Regions from separate parts of the Homo sapiens genome. Here regions 2 and 3 are each linked to region 1. Evidence: fine-mapped expression QTL. A gene starts in region 1. Each other region holds a variant in brackets. All regions are shown on one strand. Distances are between the middles of the regions. Region 1 holds the start of VNN2 (vanin 2). Region 2 has its middle 5.0 kb from the start of VNN1. Region 3 overlaps LOC107986644 (a long non-coding RNA gene).

Region 1 (4,244 bases):
AACAAAACATTTATCTCAGTAAGAAGGAAAGCACAGAATAAACTTTGTTTAATCGTACCTACTCTTCTATGCTGTCTAAAAGCATTTCCGTGACTTTTACCAAAGGGCTGGATAAAAATAAAACAAATCCTTTATTTGGCAGGATTGGGCCTGGGGAAGGGAGAATATGAATGTCCTAAGAAGGCATCTGAGATCACATCCTGTATTTGTTGTTATTATTGTTTTTTTTTTTTTTTTTTTTTTTGAGACGGAGTTTCGCTCTGTCGCCCAGCCTGGAGCGCAATGGTGTGATCTCAGCTCACTGCAGCCTCTGCCTCCTGGGTTCCAGCGATTCTCCTGCCTCAGCCTCCCGAGTAGCTGGGATTACAGGCGCCCACCACCACGACCAGCTACTTTTTGTGTTTTTGGTAGAGATGGGGGGTTCCACTATGTTGGCCAGGCTGGTCTTGAACTCCTGACCTCAGGTGATCTGCCTGCCTCGGCCTCCCAAAGTGCTAGGATTACAGGCATGAGCCACTGCACCTGGCCTGTTAGCATTGTTTTTAAACTCATTGTTGTTATTTGCTGCTAACAAAAATGTAAGTTACATCTTCTCCTTATTACAACACAGATGATCTTTATCACCAATCCTGGACTCTTCCCCTTCCCTGGCATCTTCCTCCAAAGCAGGGGGTGGGGAGGGAGGAAAAAGAAGGAGGAGAAGGAGTAGGAGGAGAAGGAGAAGTAGGGGGAGGATGGGGAGGGAAGGGTGAAAGAGAGAAAGAAGGAAAGAAGCGGAGTATCCTGAGGCCTGGGGCCCCTGAGCTGAGATTCCTCCTCTGGCCTAGGTGCCTCGGGGTATTGTTGCTGTAGGCACTAACTATACAGCAGTGAACAAACCAGACACAAAATCCTGCTTTTCTGGAGCACATGTTTTCAGTCCTTAATAGCAATAAGTAAGTCAGAGTGTAGATTTGGGTAAATTTTGTTATCAATATTGTCCTGTGTTACATTTTCTTAGTAGTAAGTATTTAATATTTTCCCCCCCGTCTAAAAATAAACACAATGTAAGTGACTCAACAGAACCAAAAAAATTGTTGTCAATTTTTAAATTTAATAAATGAGATATTTGTTGGGATGTGATTTTTTTACACGAGAGTTAGTTATGAGTTTCTATTAACAAAAGCTGGAATTGTTCTATATTTGAATTCGGGTGTCTTTTGGAAATTCAATATTAAATCTTAGTACTAATAGTACATGCTGTTCAATCCCTGTAATACTTTCTGATTGTCTTAAATGGACTGCAACTTTTCTTTCTTTAAAAGTGGTCAGATATATTGCGTTCTTAAGATTATAAAGTAGGCCAAGTGCAGTGGCTCACGCCTGTAATCCCAGCACTTTGAGAGGCTGAGGTGGATGGATCACAAGATCAGGAGTTTGAGACCAGCCTGGCCAATATTGTGAAACCCCATCTCTACTAAAAATACAAAAATTAGCTGGACGTGGTGGCGCGCACCTGTAGTCCTAGCTGTTTCAGAGACTGAAGAAGGACAATCGCTTGAACCTGGGAGGTGGAAGTTGTAGTGAGCTGAGCTTGCGCCACTGCATTCCAGCCTGGGTGACAGAGCAAACTCCGCCTCAAAAAAAAAAAAAAAAAAAAAAAAGAAGAAGAAGAAGAAGAAGAAGAAGAAGAAGAAGAAGAAAAATGATGATAAAGTAAAAGGCCAGTAACTGGCAGCCACATGTTATGCAAACATTCTCCCCTCTGTAAATACTACATGAATGTTATTTTTGCTTTCAGAAATCACTAAACCTTGGCCATGGTCACTTCCTCTTTTCCAATCTCTGTGGCAGTTTTTGCCCTAATAACCCTGCAGGTTGGTACTCAGGACAGTTTTATAGCTGCAGTGTATGAACATGCTGTCATTTTGCCAAATAAAACAGAAACACCAGTTTCTCAGGAGGATGCCTTGAATCTCATGAACGAGAATATAGACATTCTGGAGACAGCGATCAAGCAGGCAGCTGAGCAGGTATTCTCTTATTTCTGTTAATCATAATGTACACGAGGGGCATGGGAGCTGGTGGAAGACGAGAGAGCTGAATTGTCTGTGTTGTACATGGAAAAATCATTTTTATTTTGCTTGTTTTGAACAGGGTGCTCGAATCATTGTGACTCCAGAAGATGCACTTTATGGATGGAAATTTACCAGGGAAACTGTTTTCCCTTATCTGGAGGATATCCCAGACCCTCAGGTGAACTGGATTCCGTGTCAAGACCCCCACAGGTATTTTAACTATCTTAGTCTTTTGTGCAAAAGTAACTCTCTAAAATGCGCACGTTCACCAAAGCAAAATGATTGCTCTTGAATTACCATATATGTGGTATATGTTATGGTTATATTTATCTCAACATTTGTCAGATTTTAAAAAATTGTACTTAGATACTATTTAACAATCTTTTGTGATTGAAAATCTTTATTAAATTTTGAGAAAATGTGTAAATAGGGTATTCCTGCAAGAAAAACTAAGGGAAGAGATCTCATAGATACAAGTAGTAACTTAATTTCTGAAGTAGACAGTGGATTGTGTTAGGAATACATTCCAAAGCCTCTGCTGAAGGGACACCCTTTCAATGTTATAGAGTCTCTCCATTCCAGAGTTGCTTCTTAGGCAGAAAGACTTCACCATGTATTTTCAAGTGAATCATAAGACCTTATGCTTTGAAACTGCATTTTCCTAGGCTCACAAATCTAATTTTCCTGGGAAAAGGTTATCTAGAAACCTTCTAATATATATTAAAAATCTGGGTCCTACTGTCATCCTGGAGGTGTCAACGTGGCAGTTGCATGGACAAGTCTGGCATGAAAAGACAAAATTATATCTGGAGATAGAAAATCAAATGTCAGCATATAGATGGTGTTAAACACCATGATGAGTTCACCTGTGGAGTGAGTTAGAGAAGAGTTTAGGTATAAGGCTTGAGCACTAGGAAATTCTAGTGTTTAGACTCGGAAGAAAACGAGGAATCAGCAGAAGAGTCGAAGAAGAGCAACCAATAAATAGGAAAATGAGAGGGTGGGTCCAATAGAGAAGTGAGGTGTTTCCAGAAGGAGGTGTAATTAACTGTGCCAACTGCTGTTGAAAAGTTAAGATGAGATCAGGTAAAATGTGGGGGTCACTGCTGGCATTAGTAAGAGTTTGGGTGATAGAGATACAAGTTGGAGTGCTCTGAAAGGGAATGGGAGAGGAGGAACTGGCAACAGCAAGAGGGACTGATCTTTTGAGGAGTTTTGCTTTAAGAGAGAGATGAGGATTAAAGCAATATTTGGAAGGGCATGTTTGGAAAGGTCAAAAGAGGTTTTAATTTTATTTTTTAAAGATGGGAGGTACTAGAGGATATTTCATTGCTGATGGGATGTTTCAGTAGAGAGGAGACCCTTGATGAGGCAGGAGACCGAATAATGAATTTCTGGAGCAATAGATACCGTGTGGGAAGCATTCATCAAGTGTATAATCATCTGTGGCTTTTAAAGTATGATATTTTTAGGCATAGTTTTTGTATTAACTTAAGTTCCACTTAAGTGGTTACAGTTGCTATCGTTTCCATATAAAGTGACTAAAATATTTTTTTAAAATTGAAATTTCTTAATTATAATTTGGTTTAGATTTGGTCACACACCAGTACAAGCAAGACTCAGCTGCCTGGCCAAGGACAACTCTATCTATGTCTTGGCAAATTTGGGGGACAAAAAGCCATGTAATTCCCGTGACTCCACATGTCCTCCTAATGGCTACTTTCAATACAATACCAATGTGGTGTATAATACAGAAGGAAAACTCGTGGCACGTTACCATAAGGTAAGAGAGAGTGACGGACGTGTAAAATGGAGCGTGTTGTGAGTGGTCAATGCTGGGTTTAGGAGTTTGAATTTCATTCCCTATATGATACAATATTACTAGAGGGTTTTTTTGTTTTGTTTTGTTTTTTGTTTTTTGAAAGTGGGCAATAAAGAAAATGACACTTTTGGCTGGGCGTGGAGGCTTATGCCTGTAAGCCCAGCACTTTGGGAGGCTGAGGCAGGTGGATCACTTGAGGCCAGGAATTTGAGACCAGTCTGGCCAACATTGTGAAACCCCGTCTCTACTAAAAAATACAAAAATTAGCGGGGCGTGATGGCACATGCCTGTAGTCCCAGCTATGTGGGAGCTGAAGCAGGAGACTTGCTTGAACCCAGGAGGTGGAGGCTGCAGTGAGCCGAGAT
Region 2 (4,244 bases), 39 kb after region 1:
ACAATGCTGCTCTGTTACTCTTTATTACACTCTGGCCTACATGCACATCCAGGCATAGTACCTTCCCTTGAACTTATTTGTGACACGGATTCCTTTGCTCACATGTTTTCTTGCTGACCTTCTCCCCACTATCACCCTGTTCTCCTGCCGCATTCCCCTTGCTGAGATAATGAAAATAGTAATCAATAAATACTGAGGGAACTCAGAGACCGGTACCCATGCGGGTCCTCTGTATGCTGAGCGCCGGTCCCCTGGGCCCACTATTCTTTCTCTATACTTTGTCTCTGTGTCTTATTTCTTTTCTCAGTCTCTTATCCCATCTGACGAGAAATACCCATAGGCATGGAGGGGCTGGTCCCCTTCATCCCTGGTTCAAGTGATTCTCCTGCCTCATCCTCCCAAGTAGCTGGGACTTCAGGCACACGCCACCACATCTGGCTAATTTTTTATATTTTTGGTAGAGATGGGGTTTCATCATGTTGGCCAGGCCAGGCTGGTCTTGAACTCCTGACCTCAAGTGATTTGCTATCCTTGGCCTCCCAAAGTGCTGAGATTACAGGTGTGAGCCACAGGGCCAGCCAAAACAGAAATTTTTTGAAAAATAAATTAGGTCAGCTGGGTGCGGTGGCTCACACCTGTAATTCCAGCACTTTGGGAAGCTGAGGTGGACAGATCACCTGAGGTCAGGAGTTTGAGACCAGCCTGGCCAACACTGTGAAACCCCATCTCTACTAAAAATACAAAAATTAGTTGGGGGTGGTGGTGCGTGCCTGTAATCCCAGCTACTCGGGAGGCTGAGACAGGAGAATCACTTGAATCCAGGAGGCGGAGGTTGCAGTGAGCTGAGACCGCATCATTGCACTCCAGCCTGGGGCAAGAAAAGCAAAACTCCGTCTCAAAAAATAAATAAATAAATAAATAAATAAATAAATAAATAAAATAAATTATGTCGTTCAGATCACATCTCATTTCCTTCTGAAATTATTCTGTTCTGAAATCTACCCAATCTTGGTTGAGCCCTTCTCAGTGGTCAGGGGTTTATTGCAGGCTGTGCCAGGCTGGGAGCTTCCTAGACAGGACCACCATGTCACCTTTTCCCCAGATACCTCTGGCCCACTGTCTTGGCTCTCTTAGTCATTTTTCTGGTTGGTCACTGATTAACTCTGGAAAGAGATATGCTGAAGAGCAGCTGGGTTCTCTGGGTTATGTAGGAGACACCTCTTTGTCCACAGAATGTTTGACAAACGCATTTCTGAACTTTTCCTAGGTGTTTATTTCCACCTGCTATAATTCAGTCCAGTACCAGTAAGTCAGAGATATTCTGGGTGGCAGAAAATGCACTCGGTTTCCCCCTCCCATTTTTCCTGGATTCTCTCTTCAGGGACTATCACTCTCGGATCTTAGGTTTGTGCCCCCGATTCCTCTGTGTGCAGTAGGTGGGCATCTTCCCTCTTTATCGCCTTACATTTGTTCCTTCTAGAATTCTTTCTTCTCTTTCCTAAGCCAGTTGTCTGTAGGCTGCATTATGTACTCTGGTTGCCCCAGCTTCCTTGGCACCTCTCACCTCATGGCATTTTTATGTAAGCTGACTCCTGCCCCCCTCTTTATTAAAAGGAACTTTAAAATCAAATCTCGGGGCAGGCTACCATAACTCACACCTGTAATCTCAGCACTTTGGAAGGACAAAGCAGGCAGATGGCTTGAGCCAAGGAGTTTGAGACCAGCCTGGACAATATGGCAAAACCCTGTCTCTACAAACAATAACAACAACAGCAAATTAGCCGAGTATGCTAGTGTGATCCCAGCTACTGGAGAGGCTGGGGTGGGAGGATCACTTGAGCTCAGGAGTTGGAGGATTACTTGAGCCCAGGAGATAGAGGCTGCAGTGAGCCAAGATTGTACCACTGCCCTCCAGCCTGGGCAATAGAGTGAGACCTTGTCTAAAAAAAAAAAAGTCAAATCTCATGGTCAGTTCTCAGCTCTTACTAAGCCTGTACTTCTTGGAGTAATTTTACCCCCCACACTTTAATGCCTTTCGCTTTTTATTTTCGTTGACCTTTTTGTCTCTTCTCCCTCCTCCAACCACATTTATTTTGTTTGTCATTGATATAAATGATGCACTCTGCTAGACTCAGCTCTCACAGCTGTATCTTCCTTATCTAAAATCTTTCTATGGATAGTGAAGCCACTCTTATGGCTTTAATTAATATTTCTGATACAGCAGAGTATAACTCACTGGTAAACAAAAAAATTTTTTCTTTCATGAGAGCAAGTTCAAGCCACATCATCATGT[T/C]TACAGGCTACATTAACAATGCAAAAATAGTTTTATTAAGTCCTATGCAGAGATATGTATTATTGTAACATTAGCAACTTGTGATATTACAGTTCCTGGCTTATAACTCCCATATCCTTTGTTAGGGTTTTTTTTTTGTTTGTTTGTTTGTTTTAACATTAGGGGGTTTTAGGCCTCAGGAGCAGGCCTCATGAAACAGAATCTCCCTCTCTGACCTTACCCTGTCCTCCCTTTACCTACCTAAGGCAGGACTATAATCTGATTGTGGCTCAAAAGACCCTCATTTCAGAGAGGGTCCCACCCCATACCCTAGAGGAAGAAATGCTATAAAGAGATGTCAAGACAAACCTGAACAGACAAGCTTTACTGGGTTTCCCCACTCAAACTGTTAGTATGGGATCATAACCTTTTTGTCCAATCGCATTTCTACATGGTTGTCAATCGTGACTATGTAATGAAGCTTCCATAAAAACCCAAAAGGACAGGGTTCGGAGAGTTTCCTTACAGCTGAACACGTGGAGGGTTCCTGGAGGGTGGCACACCTAGGGGTGCGTGGAAGGCTCTCCAGTCCTTCCCCCATACCTTGCTCTATGCACCTCTTCATTTGTATCCTTTGTAATATCCTTTACAATAAGCCACTAAAGGTAAGTGTTTCCCTGAGTTCTGTGAGCCACTCTAGCAAACTAATTGAACTAAAAAAAAAAGGGGTCATGGAAACCCCAACCCAGAGCCATTTGGTCGGAAGATCTGGAAGCCCAGACTTGTTACTGGTGGGAAGGAGGGGGCGGTTTTGTGGGACTGAGCCCTTAACATGTGGGATCTGATGCTATCTTTGGATAAATAGTATTTGGATTGAACTGGAAGATAGCCAGCTGATGTCTGATGCAGAGTCAATTGCTTGCTTTCTAGTGGGGAGAAATCTCCACCTACTTGGGAGTAACCAGTCTTTTGTGTTAGTTGTTGTGCTATGAGACCAGAGGAAAAATGGATTGTTTCTCCTAAAACCAGATTAATGTCAACAAAAGAATTGACATTGTGTTGTAGCCACTAAATATTAAAATATGGGCGTATATTTTGAGTAGCAATGCAGAGGCCGACTGCCAATCAATCTTTTATCAGACACAAGTATATGGACACACTTTTACATGCTGTGCACATGGCTTTTCAGAGTTCACCAGGTGAAGTGCAAGAGGCAGTGCCCACTCCACTCAGTCCTTGCTCTTCCCTCCTTTTCCCTTGTTTCTGGTTCTCTCTGCGTAAGCTGGGCAGGACTTGCTTCTGAGTTCCTCTGGGGACCTGCTGCCTGGGGTGGGGTGATCACTGCTGTGCTAGCAAAATCCAGAATACTGTGGGTCTTGCCCTATTCTGGACAGTGCGATGTCATGTTTTCCTTGCAAAAGGCAATCTGCTCCATCTATGCAAGTTTGGTTGGAGGAGTCTGGAGGTATCAATTAGGGCTTTTGTCTACACTCAAAGTCATTTCCTTGGAGACAATTCTCCCAGTTTCTACTTTGTGTGAGCAGAAGGGCTGCATTTGGGGACCTTGGCTGGCTGTAGCAGTAGGGTTAAGGATCCAGAGAACCAGCCTAGGAGTTGTAGTAGAGGCTGCTGGTGCCTCCCAGTTCCATGTCCTGCTGATGATACTCTACTGCAAGAACTGCACTGTTTCTATTTCTATTTCTTTCTTTCTTTCTTTCTTTTTTTTGAGACGGAGTCTCACTCTATCACCAAGCTGGAGTGCAATGGCGCAATCTCGGCTCGAGGCAACCTCCGCCTCCCGGGTTCAAGCAATTTTCCTGCTTCAGCCTCCCGAGTATCTGGATTATAGGCGCCCCCGCCCCCCACACTGCTCCCTTCCATGCCCAGCTAATTTTTGTATTTTTAGTAGAGACAGGGTTTCTCCATGTTGGTCAGGCTCATCTCAAACTCCTGACCTTTGGTGATCCTCCCG
Region 3 (4,244 bases), 48 kb before region 1:
TTAAAAAATGAATTTATTAGAAATGTACTGGATGGCTCAGAGAACAGAACAGTTTGTTTGAGCAGTCAGGTCTAGGGAATAGTAAGAATAGAACAGTTTGTTTGAGCAGTCAGGTCTAGGGAATGGTAAGAATAGAACGGTTTGTTTGAGAAGTCAGGTCTAGGGAATGGTAGGAATGGAATAGTTCCAGGGGTCTTGGTTATAGGACCTGATCAAAAGCCTCTTAAGGCAGTGCTTTATAAAATGACTATCAGAGGATTTTTCACCCAATCCATCAAAGATTATTAGTTTAATAAAATACAACAAATATTAATTACTAGGAGGTTCTGCAAGACTAACCTTCTTGCAGATAACTAATGTAACTCTGAAAATGTTACAAAACAAAACAAAAAATAACTACCTGAAGACACTGGAGAGTGACCAAAAGCAGACGGAACTAGGGGATAGGTGTGAGGACCAACACTAAGAAGAAGGAATGACACTGGATGATTTTCCATTTTTATGAGTGTTAGCACGAGGAGACCCTTAGTCAGTGCTACACGGAACAACTAATAGAGTTCCTCAGTTGTAATGCCTTAAAAAAACCAGAGAACAGAGTTCTATTAGTCAGTGTTCTCTAGAAGGACAGAACTAATGGAATATATATTATATTTTATATATATTCCATATATATAAAATATAATATATATTCTCTATATATATATATGTATATGTATATTTTTTGAGACAGAGTTTTGCTGTGTTGCCCAGGCTGGAGTGCAATGGCATGATCTTGGCTCACTGCAACCTCCGCCTCTTGGGTTCAAGCAATTCTCCTGCCTCAGCCTCCTGAGTAGCTGGGATTACAGGCATGCGCCACCACGCCTGGCTAATTTTTATATTTTTAGTAGAGACGGGGTTTCACCATGTTGGCCAGTCTGGTCTCAAACTTGTAACTTCAGGTGGTCCACACACGTCAGCCTCCCAAAGTGCTGGGATTACAGGCATGAGCCACTGCACCCGACCCATATATAAGGTGAGTTTATTAAGTATTAACTCACACAATCACAATGTCCCACAATAGGCCATCTGCAGGTTGAGGAGCAAGGAGAACCAGTCTGAGATCCAAAACTGAAGAACTTGGAGTCCGATGTTCAAGGGCAAGAAGCATCCAGCATGGGAGAAAGATATAGGCTGAGAGGCTAAGCCAGTTTCTCTTTTCACATTTTCTACCTGCTTATATTCTAGCCACACTGGCAGCTGATTAGATTGTGCCCACCCAGATTAAGGGTGGGTCTTCCTTTTCCGGCCCACTGACTCAAATGTTAATCTCCTTTGACAACACCCTCACAGACACACCCAGGATCAATACTTTGTATCCTTCAATCCAGTCAAGTTGACACTCAGTATTAACCATCACAAGAGTTCAGAATAACCATGGCACTGGAAATTGAAGAAAGGAGGGAAATCCCAGAAAGGAGAGAGCCAGAGAGGGGAAAACCAGAATTTTCCGTGTATACTCTGCCTCAATCTCTGGCTGAGCTCTGAACTACACACACATGGGGTAGCACAGTGGCTTATGCCTGTAATCCCAGCACTTTGGGAGGCTGAGGTGGGTGGATCACAATGTCAGGAGTTCAAGACCAGCCTGACCAACATGGTGAAACGCCGTCTCTACTAAAAATAAAAAAAATAGCCAGGCATGGTGGCGCATCCCTGTAATCCTAGCTACTCAGGATGCTGAGGCAGGAGAATTACTTGAACCCAGGAGGTGGACGTTGCAGTGAGCTGAGATTGTGCCATTGCGCTCCAGCCTGGGTGACAGAGCGAGACTCCATGTTAGAAAAAAGAAAAAGAAAAAAAAACCTCCAAGCAACACAGGTAAGGCTAAACAAAATGCACAGAGATTACAGCTGCTGCTTTTCCCATCACTGGAGAAACATGAAGTTTGAGTCAAGGCAGGTAAACTCTCTGCTAAATTCTTTTTTAAAATTAATATTCTTTGGAAGAATGTAACAGAATCCAGAATCTCTGCAATGTATCATTAACAATGTCTTCGATATGATCCAAAATTATGCTGTATACCAAAAAACTAGAAAACATGACTCATACTCAAGAGAAAAGGATCCCAAGATGATCATATGTTAGAAGTAGCAGACAAGAATTTTAAAGCAGCCATTAAAAATATGATTAAGAATGTAAAAAATGTTCATAATGAATGAATAAATAGGAAAAGTATAAACCATAAAAGAGTATCAAATAGATATTCGAAAACTAAAAAGTAAAATATGAGAAATAAAAAATTTACTGGAAGGGTTCAGCAATAGATTGGAGATGATGAAAGAGTCAGTAAACTTTAAATAAATCCGAAATTATCCAATAGAGAGGGAAAAAGCCAATTGAAAAAAAAATGTATAGAGCTGCAATGATCTGTTGGGCAAAATTTAAAGGTCTAACATATACTCA[A/G]TTAGAATACACAAGACTAACATATAGGCAGTTGGGGTGCCAGAAGGCAACAAAATGAGGGAGGAAACAATATTTAAAGAAATAAGACTGGGCACAATGGCTCACACCTGTAATCCCAACACTTTGGGAGGCCGAGGTGGGCGGATCACCTGAAGTCAGGAGTTTGAGACCAGCCTGACTAACTTGGTTAAACTCCATCTCTACTAAAAATACAATATTAGCTGGGCATGGTGGAGCATTCTTGTAATCTCAGCTACTCAGGAGGCTGAGGCAGGAGACTCGCTTAAAACCTGGAAGGCAGAGGTTGCAGTGAGCCAAGATCATGCCATTGCACTCCAGCCTGGGCAACAAGAGTGAAATTCCATCTAGAAGAAAAGAAAAAGAAAAAGACAGAGACAGAGAGAGAGAAAGGAGAGAGAGAGAGAAAGAAAGAAAATAATGTTCAAAAGCTTCCCACATTTGGTGAAACACATAAATTCAGATTCAAGAAGCTCAGTGAACCCTGAGAAGAATAAATACACACACGTATACAACCCTAGGCATATCATAAGTGAGATATTAAAACTCAAAGTTAAAATTACAGTGGCATTTATGGGGAAAAAGACACATTACATACAGGAGACCAATAATACAAAATTCCACTAATTTCTCTCAAAAAATAGGAGCCAAATGAAAACAGAACCACATCTTGAAAGGGCTGAAAGACAACTTGCTACCCATATTTCTATATTCAATGAAAGGCTCTTCCAGAATGAAGACAAAATGATGACATTCAGAGCTAAACAAAAACTAACAGAACTCATCACCAGAAGACTCATACTTGAAGAAATGTTACAGAAAGTTACTCATGTCGAAGAAAAATGATATCAGATGGAAAATTTAGATGTTCTAGAAGGAATGAAGAACACTGAAAATGGTAAATATGTGGGTAAATTTCAGACTATTTTTCTTTTTGATTAAATAGTACATATAGCTATCTAAAGTAAAAATTATAATATTGCATGATGAACTTTGTGTCTTCATAGATATAATGCGTATGACAACTAAAGAATGAAGGATGAAGAGAGAAGAGGTGGCTGCTGGGTAAGGCCACCTGTATGAGTCTAACAGTCTGCAAGGTTCTTACATTTTCCATGAAGTGCTACAATATTAATGCTAAGTGGACAAAAAAAATTAAGAATGTGTGTATTGTAATTCCTAAGCAATGACTAAAAATAGTTGAAAGAAATATAGGTAAAATGATAACATACAAATTACAATGGAATTCCAAAATCTCTTTTTTTCTAATTAAGCCAAAATAAGGTAAAAAAAAAAAAAAAAGAAGAAGAAGAAGAAACAAATGAGTAAAAAACAGATGGGAAGATATAAAACAAATAGTAAAATGGTAGACGTAAACCCAACCCCATCAATACTTACCTTATATGTAAGTAGAGTATCTTCTCAAATTAATACATGTTAATACCAGAGGAGGGGAAGTTTTCGACTTGTTTTATGAGTGCAGAATTACTTACTACCAAAGCCTGACAAAAGAAAATAAAAAGAAATTACAGATCAACATTACTCATAAACATAGACAAAAAAAACCTCTAACAAAATATTAGCAAATTGATCCAGCAATATATAAGAAAAGAGAATACATCTTGACCAAGCAAGATTTATCTCAAGAATCCAAAGTTAACATTAGACAATTAGCATTAGACCACTGATCAGTGTAATTTATTAAATTAACAGAATAAAGAAAAAACCATGTACAATAGACGCAGAAGTACTATTTGATAAAATTTAACACAAATTCATTT

Evidence for each region. PIP is the estimated chance that this variant, and not a neighbour inherited with it, causes the effect.
Region 2: its variant is the best candidate, but not a certain one, in a credible set for the expression of VNN2 in monocytes after Pam3CSK4 (Quach 2016, PIP 0.88).
Region 3: its variant is the best candidate, but not a certain one, in a credible set for the expression of VNN2 in whole blood (INTERVAL, PIP 0.71).

The regions. Positions count from the first base shown.
Region 1 is chr6:132,755,439-132,759,682 of GRCh38, reverse strand. It overlaps VNN2 (vanin 2), which reads left to right and starts at 1,779. Exons shown (of 7, transcript NM_004665.6): 1 at 1,779-2,012; 2 at 2,137-2,267; 3 at 3,648-3,840. The coding sequence starts at 1,800.
Region 2 is chr6:132,716,926-132,721,169 of GRCh38, reverse strand. No RefSeq gene overlaps it. Among named protein-coding and RNA genes, the nearest start is that of VNN1, 5.0 kb to the right of the region's middle. The variant T/C (reference allele first, on the strand shown) is at 2,294.
Region 3 is chr6:132,803,815-132,808,058 of GRCh38, reverse strand. LOC107986644 (a long non-coding RNA gene) reads left to right here. Exons shown (of 3, transcript XR_001744345.3): 2 at 3,108-3,361; 3 at 3,471-3,701. Among named protein-coding and RNA genes, the nearest start is that of SLC18B1, 7.3 kb to the right of the region's middle. The variant A/G (reference allele first, on the strand shown) is at 2,446.